Regions from separate parts of the Homo sapiens genome. Here all the other regions are linked to region 2. Evidence: fine-mapped expression QTL. A gene starts in region 2. Each other region holds a variant in brackets. All regions are shown on one strand. Distances are between the middles of the regions. Region 1 overlaps TAB2-AS1 (TAB2 antisense RNA 1). Region 2 holds the start of TAB2 (TGF-beta activated kinase 1 (MAP3K7) binding protein 2). Region 3 holds the start of SUMO4 (small ubiquitin like modifier 4).

What was found.
Region 1: its variant is fine-mapped to the expression of TAB2 in whole blood (TOPMed, PIP above 0.99). The same link has a PIP of 0.9 or more in T cells and blood mononuclear cells.
Region 3: its variant is fine-mapped to the expression of TAB2 in whole blood (INTERVAL, PIP 0.93).

What each region holds. Positions count from the first base shown.
Region 1 is chr6:149,240,354-149,244,353 of GRCh38, forward strand. TAB2-AS1 (TAB2 antisense RNA 1) reads right to left here. Exons shown (of 3, transcript NR_149096.1): 2 at 3,273-3,648; 3 at 2,930-3,131. It also overlaps a transcript of TAB2 not described here. Among named protein-coding and RNA genes, the nearest start is that of TAB2-AS1, 15 kb to the right of the region's middle. The variant C/T (reference allele first, on the strand shown) is at 2,405.
Region 2 is chr6:149,315,644-149,319,643 of GRCh38, forward strand. It overlaps TAB2 (TGF-beta activated kinase 1 (MAP3K7) binding protein 2), which reads left to right and starts at 2,069. Exons shown (of 7, transcript NM_001292034.3): 1 at 2,069-2,372. RefSeq lists silencers at 1,212-1,281, 1,332-1,871, 1,962-2,861 and enhancers at 2,952-3,131, 3,292-3,401.
Region 3 is chr6:149,399,902-149,403,901 of GRCh38, forward strand. The region is part of intron 6 of TAB2 (TGF-beta activated kinase 1 (MAP3K7) binding protein 2); the gene reads left to right. It overlaps SUMO4 (small ubiquitin like modifier 4), which reads left to right and starts at 361. Exons shown (of 1, transcript NM_001002255.2): 1 at 361-1,377. The coding sequence starts at 491. The coding sequence ends at 778. The variant TA/T (reference allele first, on the strand shown) is at 2,097.

The DNA.
Region 1 (4,000 bases), 75 kb before region 2:
GGTTCCTCCAGTCTATGAAACAAGGGGGACATTTCTGCACCCACAGAATGCAGAAAACTGCCCAGTTAGCCCCTCTCTGCTGCAAACCCTTCACAATTCAACAGACAGATGCCTTCGGGAGAGTTTCTGGAACTCCAGTGTAAATAAGGTCAGGTGGATCAGAATGTTCTGTAAAGTGTTATAAAACTGTAGAATAATAGCATCATCATCATCATCATTATAAAAGGATAGTGATAACATCTTAGGCTTGCTGCCTAGAGAGATTCAAGAACAATTACTTTATTTTTCTACTCTTTCTACTATATTTTTATTCTGTCTTTATGGTAGTATAATTTGCATATAATGAACATGTTTTAAGTGTAATGTCTGTCCAATTTTGTTTATTATTTTTGGGCTAACATAAAGTCAAATATATTTTAAAGTACAATAAAATCAAATGGCTATATTTTAACTAATATAAATATGTAGAGCTACAAATTTAATTATGACACGTGTTATGGATTAAATGGTCATGCCCCTCCCCTAAATGCATATGTTGAAGCCCTAACCCCAAATGTGACAATATTTGGAGATAAGGCCTTTATGGAGGTAATTAAGGTAAAATTAAGTCGTAAGGGTGGGGCCCTAATCCAATAGTGATAATGCCCTCATATAAAGAGGAAGAGACACCAAGAGCTCTCTCACTCTTCACACAAGCACAAAAAAAGAGGTCAAAAAAGAGGTTGTGTAAGGACACAGCAAGAAGGTTTCCACCTACACACCACAAGAAGAGGCCTCAGAATGAAATCTACCATGCCAGCACCTTGATCTTGAGCTTCCCAGCCCCGAGAACTGGGAGGAATAAATGACTATTGTTTAAGACACCCAGTCTATGGTATTTTGTTAGGGCAGCCTGAGCAGACTAAAACAATAGATTTTGGGCTCAGTTTAATAGTTACACTTGATGATATATGTAGGCAAACCACTTCTCCATTTTTTTGTTGTTTTCTAATAGTGGCTTTTTGCCTATACTCTTTTAATCAATAGGATGTTGATCCTGCGTACTGTAAATGATTTTTAATGTTTTTAAAGTGGCATTATAAATTGTTGTATTTGTTTCTTTCTATCAGACACTGATCCAATAAATGCTTGAAAAGGTTGAATATTTGCAAAGATATTTTAGCTTAAATATGGACTTCTTTAAAGTCTGCTTGCAAATTGATTCCATTTGCCAGCCACCATTTCAATGCTGTGGGTAGAAATATGACGAAAATGAGATTAAATCAAAAGCAAGGCTGAACTCCCTGCAAATTTTCAAAACTGCATAAAAGACTCCCAAGCAAATATAACCAGAAATTAATTCCATATTACGCTATCTGGAATGATTTACAGATGAAATTGTGATTTTTATTATAGCTCAAGCCAAAGCATTAGAGTCTGATTGAATATATACCTAGCCACCGAATCAGACTTAAGGATGGCTTCTCTGAACACATACGAGTAGAAAGTAGAAAGAATTGGGGAAGAAGTGAACTGGACCTGAAGCCCACTCTCAGCCTTCCAGCCCGTGCCTCCTCTCTCTGCTGCCCCGTAAGGCTGCTCCTGGGGGCCCCGAGGTCATCCTTGGCTACTGCGTTCCCCACTGCCTTCCCCAGGCTCTGGACTTTCCTCCCTCATTCTCCCCATCAAACCTTATCTGCCTGGTGCCATTGGGCTCCAGCTTCCCATTAGGAAACTGAATCTCTGCAGGATATGGATGTCACTGCTCGGGATGGCCCTCCTTCCTGCCTATCCCACATATGTGTATTGAAACAATGCTCTTGTAAAGAACATGCCTAAACTAAGGGATCATTTTGATGATACCTATTCCAGTCTTTGGTCTCTAGCTGTATTGGTTTCATGGACCCAACACTCATCTTTATCAAGTTTGATTAATTCTTTTTCCACAGGAATATAATATCATAATACTCCCTTAAGGTTTGAAATAACTCAAATAATCACCCAGGGTTACAGTAATACTAGTGCCAATAGAAAGTAACCTTTAAGTATAAACTAAAGCCTATTAGCACTTTGAAATCTAAATAAACCTATTTTTTTCCTGTGAATTGTTAGTAGGTGTTATTATAGAGTTCCTAAAGTTGCCTGTGAGTAGAACAGGAAATAAATTTCTCCCAATGAAAGAATATTGAAGACTTCATGACTGTCCCACAATACCCCAAAAGAGGCATTTCCTCTGAGGTTGAGCTTCCAAAAATGGAAATGCCCCAGAATGTATGGTTTAAGAGAATTTCGATGTGAGACACACACTTTTCTGGAAGAACCTGTAGCTCTTCCTTGTTGGCAGCCCCAAAGTCTATGAATCCCAAGATAGCCTCTGGTTCGGGATTGTTTTGCCATGGAGAAGAGAATGTGACATAAGGATGGC[C/T]GCCCGTCTCTTCTCTATGGGGCAGTTAGACTCATCCCCAAAGAAAGGCATCAAATCCCCATGATGCCCAGCCCCTGGTCACACCACGCAAAGATGGCAGGCCTCACAGGTCTCTTCCCTGCTGGGAAATGACAACAGTTCTCTCCCAGAAGGTGCTTCTCCCATGCTCACTCTGGAAGCACCCTTTCATCACCTTGCTATAAACTGAAATTCCCAGAAATTAGGATCTGCATCTGTAATTCCATCAGAATCTCCACATAGGTTTGAATTCTAAAATGAGAGAAGGAATCGGCTATGCCTGCTCTTGGTCTCAGCCTCTGAAATAGCTGCCTGCTGACTCATAGTGTAAACACAGGGGTTCATTCCCTTCTCTCCGAAATCTGCTCGTATGCACCCAAAATTATTATTATCTATGTCCAATCATGGAAGCAGGACAAGCTGAAAGACTGCCAGCACGGCCTCTGCCTTTCTCGATTTAAATATATAGATCTGGCTTTGGGCAGGCTCTTCAGACTGACACACTCTCCAGACGTAAATGTTATTTTATTAAGATACAGGGTGACATAAAAATATTTGTATAATCAATATATCGTGTTCTGCTTTAAAATCTGTGACAGGTCTTCAAGTAATCTCATTTTCACAGATCAAGTAGACTAGTCAGAAGTCTTGATGAATGTTGAAGGAGACATCATGGTAATTTACACTAGATTCACATTATATCCAGTTTCTGTGTGCAAAGAAATGGAAATAAGTTTGTACAAATCTTCCCCCACCTCCATAACCTAAAACACAGGAGACAACTTTAACTATATAATGTAATATTTCCAACAGGATGAGGATAGGCAGTACTTTCACCTTATTGACTTACCTTTAGCTTTTTGATTGGCTGAAGGCACTTCCTCAGAATAGATTCTTTGAAATGATCCTCTTCTTAACACAGTTCATTTTAAATATCCTACTTTTCTTAATAGTTTTCAATGCAACCCATCATCAAAGGGAAGGAGTTGATGAAAAGAAATGAAATTGAAACGTGCACCTGGGGAGAAGTGATTGAAGGTTCTTCATTTAAGGGATTGGCTCCTTTTCTCTTATTATACTGTGAAATCTGAAAACATCTCTTGAAATTCTGGTCACTGTCTTCTGGACATCCCAAGGCGCACCATCTCCACAGTTCCTCCCTCCTAGATTATCCCATCCAGTGTGGCATCCAGTGTGGCAAATGGAAAGACTCTTCCAGTGGGCAACTGAAAAGGACACCAAAGAAAGCAGATACAGCCCATGATCAAAGAAGCACATAACTTCAGTTTGGAACATGACTGATAGAAAGATCAATTAGACAATGTACACCAATCAAAGGTAAGCACCAACAGGTGCTATTGTACCAGAAAACAAACACAAAGGCTGAGGCTTTCCAGTGTTTGGGGAAACAGCCTCAATAAAAGGGATCTCAGGAATGGATTTATCCTTCTATCCTTCCTTCCACCCCTTCAACTGAGCCTCTACTACATGCTGGGCACTGTGCCAAAGGCCGGCAACTCGGAAATGAATAGGCTTGGTTCCTGCCCTCAAGTGACTTATAGTCCACGGTGGCGGTGG
Region 2 (4,000 bases):
GCATTTCGTTACCATGTCTTTAGTTTTTTCTAGTCTGCAGTCTTTGTCTTTTATGACATTGGTCATGATTTAAAAATACAGGCTAGTTATTTTATATTTTATTTTCCTCTACTTGGGTTTGTCTGATGCTTCCTCATGACTACATAGCTCTAAGTGCACTGCTGGTGCAAGGATGTATTTGTTATATGTACCTTCTTTGCCCCCCACTGGTTTTTAGACTTGACCTGCTCAAACCTATAATCTATAAAGCATTATATTTCTATTAAAATACGTACATGTACATTCCATAAATTTTTTTAAAAATTTGCATAAAATACATCATCCTACCATTTCAAAAGCAATTGTTGCCTCTGTACTTTATAATGGTTTCAAAGACAAGTGAAATTTACTTAATGGATTCAGTTTATCTAAAATTATTTAATCAATTATTTTATCATTGAGTATGGAAATAATTCCTCAGAGAACTGCTGTAAAGCGTTAAAGTTAATGATTTCTTCTCGCCAGTAAAACTAGAATCTTCCCAATTTTGTAAATCCTAATTTTACTTTTGCTTCTCTTAATGGTATCACCAATGGAGAATAATTAAATTCCGATATTGTAAATCATAAGTACTTTCAGCTTTTGAAGTGGCAAAGTATTTGAATTGGTGCTATAGCCCAGACTTCAGGTATTTTCAAAGGATGAATGAGGAAAAAGGAAGTGGGGAGAAAGAACTTTTAACTGTGAGGAAGGCTCTACTATTTAAAAGATGGTTTAAAAAAAATTCTCACTGTAGCTACAGTGCTCACACTGGAAATAAAAGTATAAAAATGGTCCTTTAGGATTTTTCTCTGGAGTAAGAATTGTTTCAAGGAAGAAACTGCCAGGGATATGGACATTTTGGACAGGGGCAGAAAAATGCCCTAGTGTTTTGGACACCATGGAAGCGCTAGAATTTTTAAATAAATATTTCACATTGTGAGAAACGTCTGAGTATTAAACACGCTTTTTTTTTCCCTAGGGGGACACTAAACAAATATTTATTTAAGGAGGTAGAAACTTGAAGGCCCCCCCTCTTCCCGCAAAGCTAGTCTTTGGCTCTGCTTCTAGGACTTCTAGGAACGTGCAATTAAAATAAAATCGAAACAACGAAACCCTCGCAGCATTTAGATTTCTTTTTTCCCCCTCAACTGCTCAAGAAAAGTCAGAAGCCGACACTTTTTCCAAGTCTCGAAGTTGCCAGTTGTGAGGCTCCCAAGACGTCTCCCGCACACCCTAGGGACGATTCTGCACGGGTCCCTCCCGTTAGCCGGCGGTGCGATCCGGCTCCAAGGGGGTGTGTCCCGGACCGCAGCGACCCGGCGCCAGCCTCCGCCGCGGGCCCACCTGCTCCTCTCGGCCGCCGCAGCGCCCCGGGGTCCGGCCGGGCCCCCGGACCCCACCCGCGCGGCGCCGCCGGCCGCCCGGCAAGTCCCGCCACCCACTTCCGGACCCGGCCAGCCCCTCCGCTAGGTGCAGCTGGGACGCGAGCTCAGTTCCTTTCTTCCCTCAGCCCAAACTGCTAGCGGCCCCCGTGGCGGGAGGTGGAACCCGCAACCTACCCCCAAGGATGGGGGGCCCAGGCGGAGAAAGGGGGTCCCAGCCCTCCCCGGGCTGCCCGCACCGGCACCCCCCTCGCACGGCCCCAGCGGCGGCCCGCGTCCTCCCTCCAGCCCTAGCAAGACAGGCGTAGAGACTGCGAGTGTCGGGGGAGGGGTACAGGTCGGAGGAAGAGCATCCCCGGGCCGCAGCCGCAGCCGCCGCCGCCGCCGCCGCCTGCTGCTCCCCCGCCGTTCGGCTAGGGGAGGCCTCGTCACAGCCGCCGCCTCAGCCGCGGCTGCAGATCTCGCGGTGTTTGCCGGCCGCCGCGCCGCCATATTGTGTGACAGTATTTTGATTTGGACTGGGCTGGCGGAGCCGCGGCGAGAGCGAGCGAGAGCTGGGGGGGTGGGGGGAGGGCAGGCGAGCGCGAGGGGGGTGGGGGCAGAGGGAGGTGGGGAGGCCGAGCGAGCCGGAGCTGAGGATTGGGGAGCGGCGACGCCGCCCAGCCGTCGTTTTTGATCTGCTGCAGCCGCCGGCGGGGCGACCCAGCCCGACCCCCTCCCCTCCCCCTCAGCCAGGAGCGGTGGCGGCGGCGGCGGCCGGAGGGAGTTGGCGGCGGCGGGCGAGCGGAGGGGGCTGAGCGGGGAGGGAGGGAGGGCTGAGGTGTCCCCCCTGCCGGGTGGAACCGGAGGCGGCGGCGGCGCTGGCGGCGGCCGTGGTGGCGGAGGCGACGGTGGAGACGGCTGCCCTAGTGGGAGAGGCGGCGGCGGCGGCGGCCGAGGAGGAGGAGGGGGAAGCGGCGGCGGCAAAGGGTAAGCGGACAGCGCTGCCGGGCCTCGGCGGGATCCCCAACCTGGCTCTCCCCTCATCGCCCCGCACCCCCCTCCGTCTGGAAGGGGCTCTGCCGCCTCGCGAGGCCCGTGCGGGGCGTTCGCTTCTAACTTGCACTCTTCCTCCCTCCGCCTCTTTCCTTCCCCCAGTGGCGTGGCGGAGAGGGAGGCCCCCCGAGTCCCCCAGTCCGGTGGGGGTGGGGAGCATCGGGCCGGGCCTGGGCTCCGGGGCGTCCGTGCGGGGGGGGAGGGGGAGCTTCATTGGAATCGAGCGCCTAGGAGAGCCCCGGGTGGGGGAGGGCGCAAGGGGCTCGGGAGGGCCCCTCCCTGCGTCGGCGCCCCTGACCCGCCCCCAGGCATGTGTGAGGTGGGGGCGGGGGAGGAAAAATCTCCTTTTGGGGAGCCGAGGTCTAGTTAAAGATGACTCAGGGGCGGGGGTTTTGGGGACAGACACGGGGCAGTTATGTGGGGGTCGGGCGGGAGGGAGAACATCGTTCCTTTGCGGATCTTGGTTTTCTGCAGCCGTCTTTGAAGTGGGGGGCAAGCCCTACTATGAATATGTGGCCCCTTAAATTTCACTGGATGTTTCTGGTTTTCGGTCCCATCAACCTCAAACCCTACGATTGTGGTTGAGTCAGGGAGGCTGCAAGGGTCTCTTGGCGGTGCTGAACAGGTGACAGGTGGATCTTTCTGTTGCTGATGCTGTGAGATGTTCAGGCACAGTCGTACACCAAAGTGTCAGAGACCGTGTGAGTTTGTATTTATGTGTTTGGCCATGTTTCATTCCATATATAGTATATTTGAGATGTTAGGTTTCCATTCTTCAAGTCAGCTTAATTGTTGTGGATAAATTCTTCAAATGTTTCTGATAAGAGGGTTTTCCAGGAGAGCGGAGGGAATTTGCAGCCTCACAGGGGTTTCTCCGTAGTTCACGAAATTTAGGCCCCCAGTGCAGGCTGTTGAGTACCCTTATTCATTGGAAAGTTCTTGAACGCTAAGATCGTATTCAGAGCAACTGTACGGCAATATAATTTTGCATCCATTTTGTCTGTTTTAGGTAAGTTTGTAAAGTGTCTAATTTTGGGGTCAGATTGATTCACATTTTAGAAAAGGAATTTCGTTTCCGCTTTAGCATACTCTAAAGGTTATGATGATCATTATGCAATTCCAGATTTGGCCGGGAATTTTAGTGGGCATGGAATAGAATATTTGCTTTCAGTTTTTTCACTTCTGCTTACTACACTGTTCATACAGTAGCAGAGTATTGACACCTTTTAAAAAATATCTTTACATTCTTTGTAACAATGAAATCACGATTTTAAACTTTTGACGGTTTGAAACTGTAAATTTTGAAACCATGGCAGTTTGTAATAAAGGAAGACTTGCTTTTCTTTTGTTGTAGGCTTTGGCTGAGCATTTTAATTAGAAACAATGGGAAGAATTGTTAGATACATGAGCTATAGGCTAAATTAGGGTACAGTTAGTTTAAGGATTCTGCTGCTTTAAAAAAACATGTATGGAACGAATATGATGTACTATCAATGTGTTAACAGGAAATAGAACAAAAATTCCAGTGATTCAGAACTTCTGTTTGGGTTTTTCCCCCATAG
Region 3 (4,000 bases), 84 kb after region 2:
GAGGGTGGAGGTTGTAAAGATGCAGTAGTATTTTTGTATGCATTTGAAGTTAAGTTGTTATCAACTTAAAATAGAAGAGTATAACCAAATATAATCAAAGTAAATCACGATTAAACGTTGTCGAATAACAAGACAATAAGAGGAAAAGAGGAGCAAAACAGTTGTCAAATAGACAGGAAGCAACAAACTGCCAATAGTAAGTCCTCACTTATTAGTAATTACCTTAACTGGAAATGGATTAAACTCACCACTCACAAGGAGTTGTATGAATGGATTTTAAAAACAGGATCTGGCAGCAGCCAATGGGAGGCCCCAACAGCTCGTGCTGGCGCACACAGCGGGAGGGGAGGGAGCCCAGGATGTGCACGCACCCTCTCCCTCATCCACCGCTGTCACCTCCTGCTGCTCTTCCTGCTGCTCGTGTACTCGTTAGGTGCGGACCCGCCACCTCTTTTGTGAAGCAGCAGCTGAGGAGACTCCGGTGTTCACCATGGCCAACGAAAAGCCCACAGAAGAAGTCAAGACTGAGAACAACAATCATATTAATTTGAAGGTGGCGGGACAGGATGGTTCTGTGGTGCAGTTTAAGATTAAGAGGCAGACACCACTTAGTAAACTAATGAAAGCCTATTGTGAACCACGGGGATTGTCAGTGAAGCAGATCAGATTCCGATTTGGTGGGCAACCAATCAGTGGAACAGACAAACCTGCACAGTTGGAAATGGAAGATGAAGATACAATTGATGTGTTTCAACAGCCTACGGGAGGTGTCTACTGAAAAGGGAACCTGCTTCTTTACTCCAGAACGCTGTTCTTTAAAGACCAAGATTACTGCATTCTCAATTAGAAAACTGCAATTTGGTTCCACCACATTCTGACTACTACAGTATAGTTTTCTCTATTCTTTTGTTTCCCCCTTCCACATTCTTTTATTATACATGAAGTAACTGGTATGTGTACACAAGCATATTGCTTTTTTCTTCAAACCAAACAGCCAATGGTATGTTTTGATTGACATCAAGTGGAGACAGGATGGGAAAAAATACTGATTCTGTGAAAATACCCCCTTTATCCATTAGTGGCATGTTCATTCAGGTCTTATCTTTATATTCTAGTAAGTTATTTTGCTCTCACTGTTTTAACAACAACAAAAAAAAATTCTCACATACCTTGTTCAATTGGAGGATTTTCATGTTTTTCATTTATCATTGTAAAACCAAGGACAATTTTATAACTTTTGTGTACATAGCTGTTACATGTAGGGCAATCTGTCTTTAAGTAGGGATAAATTACTCTAAAAAAAAAAGAAAGAATCCTAGAAAGTTTTTCCTTCAAGTCAGGCTTCTTATTTAAATAAACTTTTTGTTTAAAATGAAATAAAAATAAAAACAGGATCCAATAATATACTATCTACAAGAGACTCATTTTATATTTAAAGACACACATAGGCAGAAAGTGAAGGGATGGAAAAAGATTTTATATAAATGGTAGCTAAAAGAAATCAAAAGTGGCTATAATTATATCAGAAACAATAGATTTTTAAGTCTAAAACTTGAGACAAAGATTATTATGTAATGGTAAAAGGATCAATTCCACAGAAAAATATAAAAATTATAAATATATACACACCCCACATCAGACTACATTAATATGTAAAGCAAATAATGACAGTTCTGACGACAGAAATTGACAGCAATAGTAGGAGACTTCAATACCCCCCTTACAATAATAGAATATCCAGGCAGAAAATGAATAAAGAAACAGCTGATTTGAACAAGCACACACGGAACATTCTGTAGGATAGATCATATGTTAGTTCACAAAACGAGTTTAAACAAACCTAAGAAGATAGAAATCATTCCACGTATTTTTTCTAACCACAGTGGAATAAAACTAGAAATCAGTAACAGCAAGAAAACCATAAAATTTGTGGAAATTTAAACACAGTCTTGAATAATCATTGAGTCAAGAAGGAAATCAAAAGGGAATCTTAACAGTATCTTCAGACAAAAAGGAAAACATAGCATACTAGAACCTATGGGATGAAGCAAAGGCAGTACTAAGAGAGAAGTTTCTAGAGATAAACAATACTACAT[TA/T]AAAAAAAAAAAAGAAAGATCTCAATTATACCTCAGGGAACCAGTAGAAGAACAACAAGCTAAGCCTAATGTTAGCATAATGAAGAAAATAATAAGAATTAGAGCAAAAATAGAGAATTTAGAAACAACAGAAAAAGAAATAGTAAAACTAAGAGGTTTTTTAAAAAATCAACAAGATTGACAAACCCTTAGCTAGATAAATTGAGAAAAAAAGGAGACAAAATCAGAAATGAAAATGAAGACAACAGATGCCTCAGAAATAAAAGGATCATAAGGGAATATTAGGAACAATTTTATGCCAACAGACTAGATAACCTAGAAAAAAATTGATACATTCCTATCCAAAAAATATCCAAAAAAAATTGATATCACCTATTAAAGCTGAATCAAGAAGAATTAGAAAGACTGAGTAGACCAATAACAAATAAGGAGATTGAATCAGTAATCAAAAATCTCCCAACAAATATCCAGCATGGATTTAGAAATTTAAAAAAAAATTCCCAACAAAGAAAAGTCCAGAACTGGATGGCTTCATGAGTGAATTCTGTCAAACACTCAAACAAGAATTAATACCAACCCATCTTAAGCTCTTCCAAAAATGAGAAGGGGGAACACTTCCAAACTCATTCTGAGGCCAGCCTCACCCTGGTACCAAAACCAGACAAAGACACTACAACTAAAGAAAACTACAGACCAATATTACTGATGAACATAGACGCAAAAAGTCCTCAGTAAAATACTGGCAAACCAAACTGAGCACATTAAAAGGACCATACGCCATGACCAAGTGGGGTTTATCTCTGGGACTTAAGGATGGTTCAACATACACAAATCAGTTAATGTGATACAGCACACACATTGAAGTAAAATGAAAGGAATAACCATGTAGTCATCTTAATAGATGCTAAAAAGCATTTGAAAAAGTTCAGCATTTATTCATAATTAAAACTCTCAGGCCGGGCACACTGGCTCACACCTGTAATCCTAGCACTTTGGGAGACCGAGGCGGGTGGGTCACCTAAGGTCGGGAGTTTGAGACCAGCCTGACCAACATGGAGAAACCCTGTCTGTACTAAAAATACAAAATTAGCCTGGCTTGGCGGCCCATGCCTGTAATCCCAGGTACTCAGGAGGCTGAGGCAGGAGAATCGCTTGAATCTGGGAGGCAGAGGTTGCGGTAAGCCAAGATCACGCCATTGCACTCCAGCCTGGGCAACGGGAGCGAAACTCTTGTCTAAAAAAAAAAAAAATATATATATATATATATATATATATATATATATATACACACACACACATATATATATATATATATACACACACATATATATACATATATATACACACACACACACACACACACACACACACACACATACACATACACATATAGAAGGAACTTAATAAAGGCCATATATAAAAACCCCATAGGTAATATAATCAATGGAGAAAACCGAAAGCTTTCCCACTAAGATCTGGCACAAGCAAGGGTGCCATTCTTGCCACTTATTTTCAACGTAGTACAGGAAGTTCTAATGTAGTATCCATTTTTGTGTTGCTGTAAAGGAATACCTGAGGCTTGGTAATTTATAAAGAAAAAAGGTTTAATTGGCTCACAGTTCTGCAGAAAGCATGTCACCGATACCCACATGCTTTCTGTATAGGAAGCGTGTCACTGACATCTGCTTAGTTTCTGGAGAGGCTTCAGGGAACTTTTATTCATGGCAGAAAGTGAAGGAAGCAAGCAGAGGCATGTCATATGGTGAGCGAGACAGTGGGAGGTGCCACACCTTTTAAACAGCCAGATCTTTCATGAACTCAGAGCAATATCTCACTCATTATTGAGAAACCTGCACCAAGGTATTCATGAAGGATCCATCCCCAGGACCCAGACACCTCCCAC